2 linked regions of the Homo sapiens genome follow. The protein of the gene in region 1 purifies or fractionates together with the protein of each later gene. This does not show direct contact. Each region holds a gene or a part of one and is shown on either strand. Other genes may lie near its edges.

Region 1 (3,500 bases):
ATAATAATTCCTACCTACTGGGTTGTTGAGAAAACAGGCAAACCATCTAGAACCTCAGAACTTGGACAGGTTAAGATCCTCTCTAATTTCTTGCTATTTTCAGTAGCACTTATGTACTTCTTCTTGTGTCAACTTCTTGGACATTAGAGTGGATGAATGAAGGTTGACGGGGCTTATTAAGACTTGGTCGTGTTCAGAAATTTCCCCTTAGAAACAAAACCTCCTTTGACCAAGTCTAGAGCCAAGCCACATACAAGGCTGACTATAAACATTACTTCTTTTCATTTCACAACATTGGAGAAAGAAAAGATGAAGGAGTGGGAGCCATTTTAACATGGAGTTCAGAGAGGGCAATTAAACCTGAAAATAAAAGATAAAGAAAAAGAAAGCAAAAGGAAATGCCATTAAACAGTTTCAGAGATTTTGATATTTGGGATAATCACTTTTGTTGGAAATTCTCAGAAATTCAAATGACCTGCTTAAAATGGATGAGATTGCTCCTTATCTGACCAACCTGGTAAAATTCTATCTTGAGGAGTTAAAATAAGGAACTGCAGGCCCTGGGGTGGCAGGACCACAGTCAACCCTCAAAAAGAAACCAGGAAGGCCAGAGGATAAGGACTTTAATAACACGCTAAGATTTCTAAATGTTTAAAAACTCTCCTATCTCCTTCATAGTTGCTATTTTTGTTATTCTAATAAAATGAGAAACTGATCTTAGAGGCAGCTCCAGAATTTCTATACTATAGAACAATTTGATTGGAAAGAAATAGGATGGGAGATCCAGCATCTTTAAAAATTAGCTTTCATTTTTGTCAAAGTAATGTGGGACTTTGTGACTTAGGCTGTGTATGTAAAGTGACAGGGGTGAACTAATGGAGACGACAGGGGAGTACATGTGCTGCAGCTATCGCTATCACCCCAACTTCAATTTCTGTGTCGCCCCTGCTCACCATTAGCATGGCTACTGATTGGACTCTTAAAATAAGGAGAAATAAATTATATGTTTGTATGGTAGAGGGACAGGGAGAGAACCCCCAGAGAACAGAAATCCAGGGATGAAGCAGGAGGTGACAGTCACTAATAAACCAAGTGCCACAGAAGAAAAGAAAATGCAGGGATGAGACTGGGAAAGTATATTGTGGTCTTGGGCTTGGTGGTGGGAAGACCCTGAGGTTCCTCTTCAGCTCAGCTACCGATGAGCAATTGAGTAGGCTTTGCCTTTTTGGACTTTTGTCCAGAGACCTCACCAAAAGTTTCTACTGGTAAGTGGGGGAAAAGGGATTTGTGTGGTAGGTGGTGGGAAAATGTGGTTGAGATTTCTGTGTGTTTGAAGCCAAACAGCTAAACACCCACAAGTGGTAAATTCTGTGGATATGTATGCTCTTAGCTTTTTTAATTTATAAAGATTATGGTCCTAGATTTTTCAGATGTGCTTCGCTTTTGAATGTCTGTATCTGACTAATGAGGGATGCAAAATAACCAAGAAGTTAAAAGCGTAAGATCTGGAACCAAGTCATTGTTCTTTAATTTACTAACTGTGAGATGTTAAACTAATCTAGTTATCTATAAAATGGGGACATTAATGGTGCTGCCATGAAGAATGTGGTAGACAGAATAATCGTCCTCCAAAGAAGTCCACAGCTGCATTGCCAGAACCTGGGAATATCTTGCCTTATGTGGCAAAAGACTTTACAGATGAGATTAAGGTAATAGACCTAGAGATGAGATTTTCCTGGATTACCCTGATGGGTCAAATCTAATCCTATGAATTCTCAAAAGGGAAGAACTTTCCCAGCTACTTGTCAGTGCCAGAGAGATGTAACATGAGAAGGACCTGACCTGCCCATTACTGGCTATAAAGAGGAAAGAAAGATACCAGTAGCCAAGGAAATTTGGTGGCATCTAGAGCTGGGAATGGCCCTTAATTTATAACCAGGGCAAAACGACAGACTTTAGACCTATAACCAAGAGGAACTGAATTCCATCATCAACCCAAATTTTCTCCAACAGCCTCCAGAAAGGAACACAGCCTACCAACAACCTGATTTTAGTCCAGTGATACTTATACCAGACTTCCCATCTATAGATGTTGTTGTAGAGATGGGGATCTCGCTATGCTGCCCAGGCTGGTCATGAACTCTTGGCCTCAATTAATCCTCCAGCCTCAGCCTCCCAAACGCTGGGACTATAGGCATGAGCTGCCATGCTTGGCTATACTTTAAGATAAATAAATTTGTGTTGTTTAAGCTGCTGCACTGGTGGTAATTTGTTACGGCAGCAATAGAAAACTAATTTAAGAAGTAAATGAGATAATCCACATAGTGAACAGGCATGCAGTAAGCATAAGTAGTATTAGGCTTTGAATCTGTTTGTGTTGCATCTCACATGAGATTGTCCTGGTTTCAGTGATGGAGAGTATGAGGGAAGTGGGTTAAAGCCCTCCCAGGGTACTCCTTATCCCATCACTTCTGACAATGGCTACCACCTGTAAAAAGGATGAAAATCCCTATCCTTGGAAATAGCTTGAGGGGAAAAAGGATTTGAGGAGAAACCACCAACTAAGTAAATAAAATTCCATCTTAGATTTGGCTATCTAAGCCACTGAGTTTTAGATGTCGAGTTACATTTTAGATTTTAAATTCAAAATCTTTCATACTCACATAGACCATATATCATATAGTGTGTGTATGCATTTTATGTATAATATATATAATTCACGTGTAATAAACATAAAATGTTAATATATCTTATATGTAAGATATAAATGATATATATAAGTGATAAATATCAGATGTAAATGATATATAAATATATAAAATAAATATATATATTTTGAGACAGGGTCTTGCTTTGTCACCCAGGCTGGAGTATGGTGGTGCAATCATAGCTCACTGCAGCAGCAACCTCCTGGGCTCAAGCAATCCTCCCACCTCAGCCTCCTGAGTAGCTGGGACTACAGGCATACACCACCATGCCCTGCTAATCTTTGTATTTTTTTGTAGAGACAAGGTCTTGCTATGCTACCCAGGCTGGTCTCGAACTCTTAGGCTCAAGCCATCTGCCCACCTCAGTCCCTCAAAGTGGTGGGATTACAGGTGTGAGCCACTATGCCTGGCCAATTTATATCTAATAAACATATTATGCAATATTATATATCACATATATATTATTCTTTTGGGCAATATATATGTATCATATAACCATGTCTTTTGGGTCAACTTTGAAGTCCTTTCTTTCAGAGAAAGAAGTGTTAGGAGGGAAAGTCTGACAGATACCCCCTATATTAGTGAAAGGGGTGGAAGCTTTGTAAACCTACAGATTCCCTATCCCCACCCCAGAGATTCTAATCCAGTAGAAGATCTGGGGCTGTCTCCAAGAAGCTACATGTGTAACAGGCTCTCCAAGTAGGGTCTGGTTTTAGAACCACTGGACTAAATAATTTCAAGGGCTCCCAGGATGGTTCTGTGACAATACTTTGTGAAATTTCTGATCTCTAG
Region 2 (3,500 bases), on another chromosome or scaffold:
TAATAACCTAAGTTGCTATCCTAGTCACCTCATCATGTGGCTTTTTGGCATGTATTTTATTTTATCCTTTTAAATTTAATTTTAAACTAAAACTTTAGTTTTTAAAAATTTTTCTGACTTTTATTTTCCTAATTATATTAAACTCTTCTTTCAAAAGGGTGTTAACTCCTTGAGAACTATGTAAGTGTAAATTTTTATCGATCAGGTAGAGAATCATTGGCTTAATAGATGTCACAAGTCCAAATGTCTATAGATGTCAGGAAATAAATCTAAGAGTGACTGGAGGCCATTAACTTAAGTGAAACAAGCTAGATGCAGAAAGATAAATACTGCATGTTCTCACTTATAAGTGGGAGATAAATAATGTGTACACAAGGATGTGGAGTGTGGAATGATAGACAATAGAGACTCAAAAGGGTGAAGGAGTGGGAAGGTGTGGAGGAATAGAAATTACTTATTTGTTACAATGTATGTTATTTGGGTTATGGATACACTAAAAGCCCTGACTTCACCACTATGCAATCTCTGTGTGTAAAGAATCTGCACTTGTAACGCATACATTTATATAAATTAAAAAATGAGAAAAAAGAGTGATGAGAGCTTGAATGGAACAGGCAGGATGTAATGCAACAGAGAGGAGATGGCACTGAGGGAACTGGGGGTTTTGTGAGTGAATTACTGTTAAAAAGGAATGTAAATTCAGTATTGCCAGATCTTCTGTTTGTTCTTTTATTTTGAGAGAAGACAAAATTTAGATTCTCTTTACTCTTTCTTTTTCTTTCTTTCTTTCTTTCTTTCTTTCTTTCTTTCTTTCTTTCTTTCTTTCTTTCTTTCTTTCTGTCTCTCTCTCTCTCTCTCTCTCTGTGAGTGTGTGTGTGTGTGTTTAAATAAAAATCTAATTACTAAATACTGGCAACAATTCAACCATCATATAGTGTGCATTCACACACACTCACACACAATTTCAGCTGGGATATATCTTATAGACAGCCTAATCTGGGACTCAGAGAGAAAGTCTAATGTTAATAAAGAATCAACCCAAATAATGAAAATTCATGAAAGGCAGAGAAGCAAGTCCCATTTCTTTTTAGGCCAGTTCTATTCTATGCCAGGAAATGGGTCCAGTATTGGGGGCTTTGCCCATTGTTCTGGCTGTCTATTCTTGGTAACAAACCATCTCCATACAGAGTAGCTTAACGCAATGACAAATTTCTTTTGCTCACAAGTCTGAAATTTGGTGGGGACAACTCCAAAGTGGGTGGTTGGAAGAATATGAAGCCTTGTTTCCTTGAAGTTATGGCTGGCAGTTGATGTTGGCTCTTGGCAGGGACCTTGCCTGGTGCTGTGGTAGGATCATAGCCTCTCTGTGTGGCTGCTTGACTTTGTCACAGCATGGTGGCAGGTCCCAAGAGGGAACCAAGAGGCCAGGTGGCAACTGTACAGCCTTTTATGACTTAGTCTTTCACTGTGGTCACAAGCCCACTAGATTCAAGAGGGAATGTAGACTCTATCTGAACATCACGTAAGAAGACAGTCACATGGGAATTCAGCAGTGAAGCCCCAAGTCTTGGACTTTCTATGTTGGGGGAGACTTTTTATTACTGATTCAATCTCATTACTGATTGTTGGTCTATTCAGGTTTTTTAGTTCTTCTTGATTCAGTCTTGGTAGGTTGTATGAGTCAAGGAATTTATCTATTTCCTCTAGGTTTTCTAGTTTGTGAGTGTATTGTTGTTCATAATAGTCCCTGATAATCTGTTGCATTTCTTTGATATCAGTTATACTTGTCTATTTTTTCATTTTTGATTTTATGTGGGTATTCTCTTTTTTTCTTGGTTATTCTAGCAAGTTGTTTATCAAGTTTGTTAATCTTTTCAAAAAACTAACTTCCTTTTATTGATCCTTTGTATTTTTTTTGTCTCTGTTTTGTTTAGTGTTGCTCTGATCTTTATTATTTCTTTTCTCCTACTAATTTTGGGTGTGGTTTTTCTTGTTCTTCTAGTTTTTTTTAGGTGAATTATTAGATCATTTATTTGAAATCTTTCTACTTTTTGATGTAGGTGTTTGTTGCTATAAACTTTCCTGTTAGCACTGCTTTTACTGTACCCTATAGGTTTTGATATGTTATGTTTCCATTTTATTTCAGAATTTTTTTTTCCTCTTTAATTTCTTTCTTGACCCATTGGTCATTCAGGAGTATGTTGTTTAATTTTCATGTATTTGTGCAGTTTCCAAAGTTCCTCTTGTTATTGGTTTCCAGTTTTATTTCATTGTGGTCTGAGAAGATACTTGATATGATTTCGATTTTTTAAAATTTGTTGAGACTTGTTTTGTGTCCTCACATATGGGCTGTCCTAAGGAATGTTTCATGTGCTGATGAGAGGAATGTATATTCTGTAGCTGTTGGATGAAATGTTCTGTAAATGTCTGTTAGGTCCATTTAGTCTAATGTGTAATTTAAATCCAATGTTTCTTTGTTAATTTTCTGTTTAGATGACCTGTCTAATGCTGAGAGTGGGCTATTAACGTTCCTATTACTGTGTTGGAGTCTATCACTCCCTTTAGATCTAATAATAATTGCTTTATAGATCTGGGTGTTTTGGTGTTGAGTGCATATGTATTTAGAATTGTTGTATTTCTAAATATATATGCAGCTCTTGCTGAGTTGATCCCTTTATTATTACATAATGACATTCTTTGTCACTTTTTAGTGTTTTATACTTAAGGTATGTTTCACCTGATATAAGCATAGCCACTCATGCTCACTTTTGATTTTTGTTTGCATGGAAGTTCTTTTCCCATCCTTTAATTTCAGTTAGTATATGGCTTTACAGGTGAGATGAGTATGGTAAGCAGTGTATAGTCAGGTCATGTTTTTTAACCCATTCAGCCAGTCTGTATTTTTAAGTGAAAGTTTTAATTTGTTTACATTCCGGGTTATTATTGATATGTGAGAGCTTATTCTTCTTATTTTATTAACTGATTTCTAGTTGTTTTGTGTATCCTCTGTTCCTTTCTTACTCTCTTATTTTTTATTATTGTGGTTTTGTGGTTTTTCTGTAGTGGTAACCTTCTAGTCTTTTCCTTCTTTGTATGTTTGCTCTAGTAGTTTTTATATTTCATGTGTTTTAATGATATTAGATATTGTTCTTTCACTTTTGGGTGTAGGACTCCCTTGGCATTTCTTATAGATCTGGTCTAGTGGTGATAAATTCCCTCAGCTTTTGCTTGTCTGGGAAAGACTTCATTTCTCTTTCATTTTATAAAGAATAACTTTTCTGGGTATGGTATCCTTGGTTGGCAGTTTTTTTTCCTTTCAGCATCTTGAATATATCAGCCCATTCTTTCCTAGTCTATAAGGTTTCTGCTGTTAGTCTAGTCTGACAGACGTACCTTTATAAGTGACTTGATGCTTTTCTCTTGCTTTTTTGAGTTTTCTCTGTGTCTTTCACCTCTGATATTTTGACTATAATGTGCTGAGCAGAAGAACTTTTTGAATT

What was found.
Region 2: the proteins of SLC2A2 (region 1) and MOXD1 purify together in Homo sapiens (affinity purification with mass spectrometry; one large-scale study listed by BioGRID and IntAct). This does not show direct contact.

Annotation. Positions count from the first base shown.
Region 1 is NC_000003.12:171,020,221-171,023,720, reverse strand, and holds part of SLC2A2 (solute carrier family 2, facilitated glucose transporter member 2), read left to right. Parts: intron 1-3,500.
Region 2 is NC_000006.12:132,394,976-132,398,475, reverse strand, and holds part of MOXD1 (DBH-like monooxygenase protein 1 precursor), read left to right. Parts: intron 1-3,500.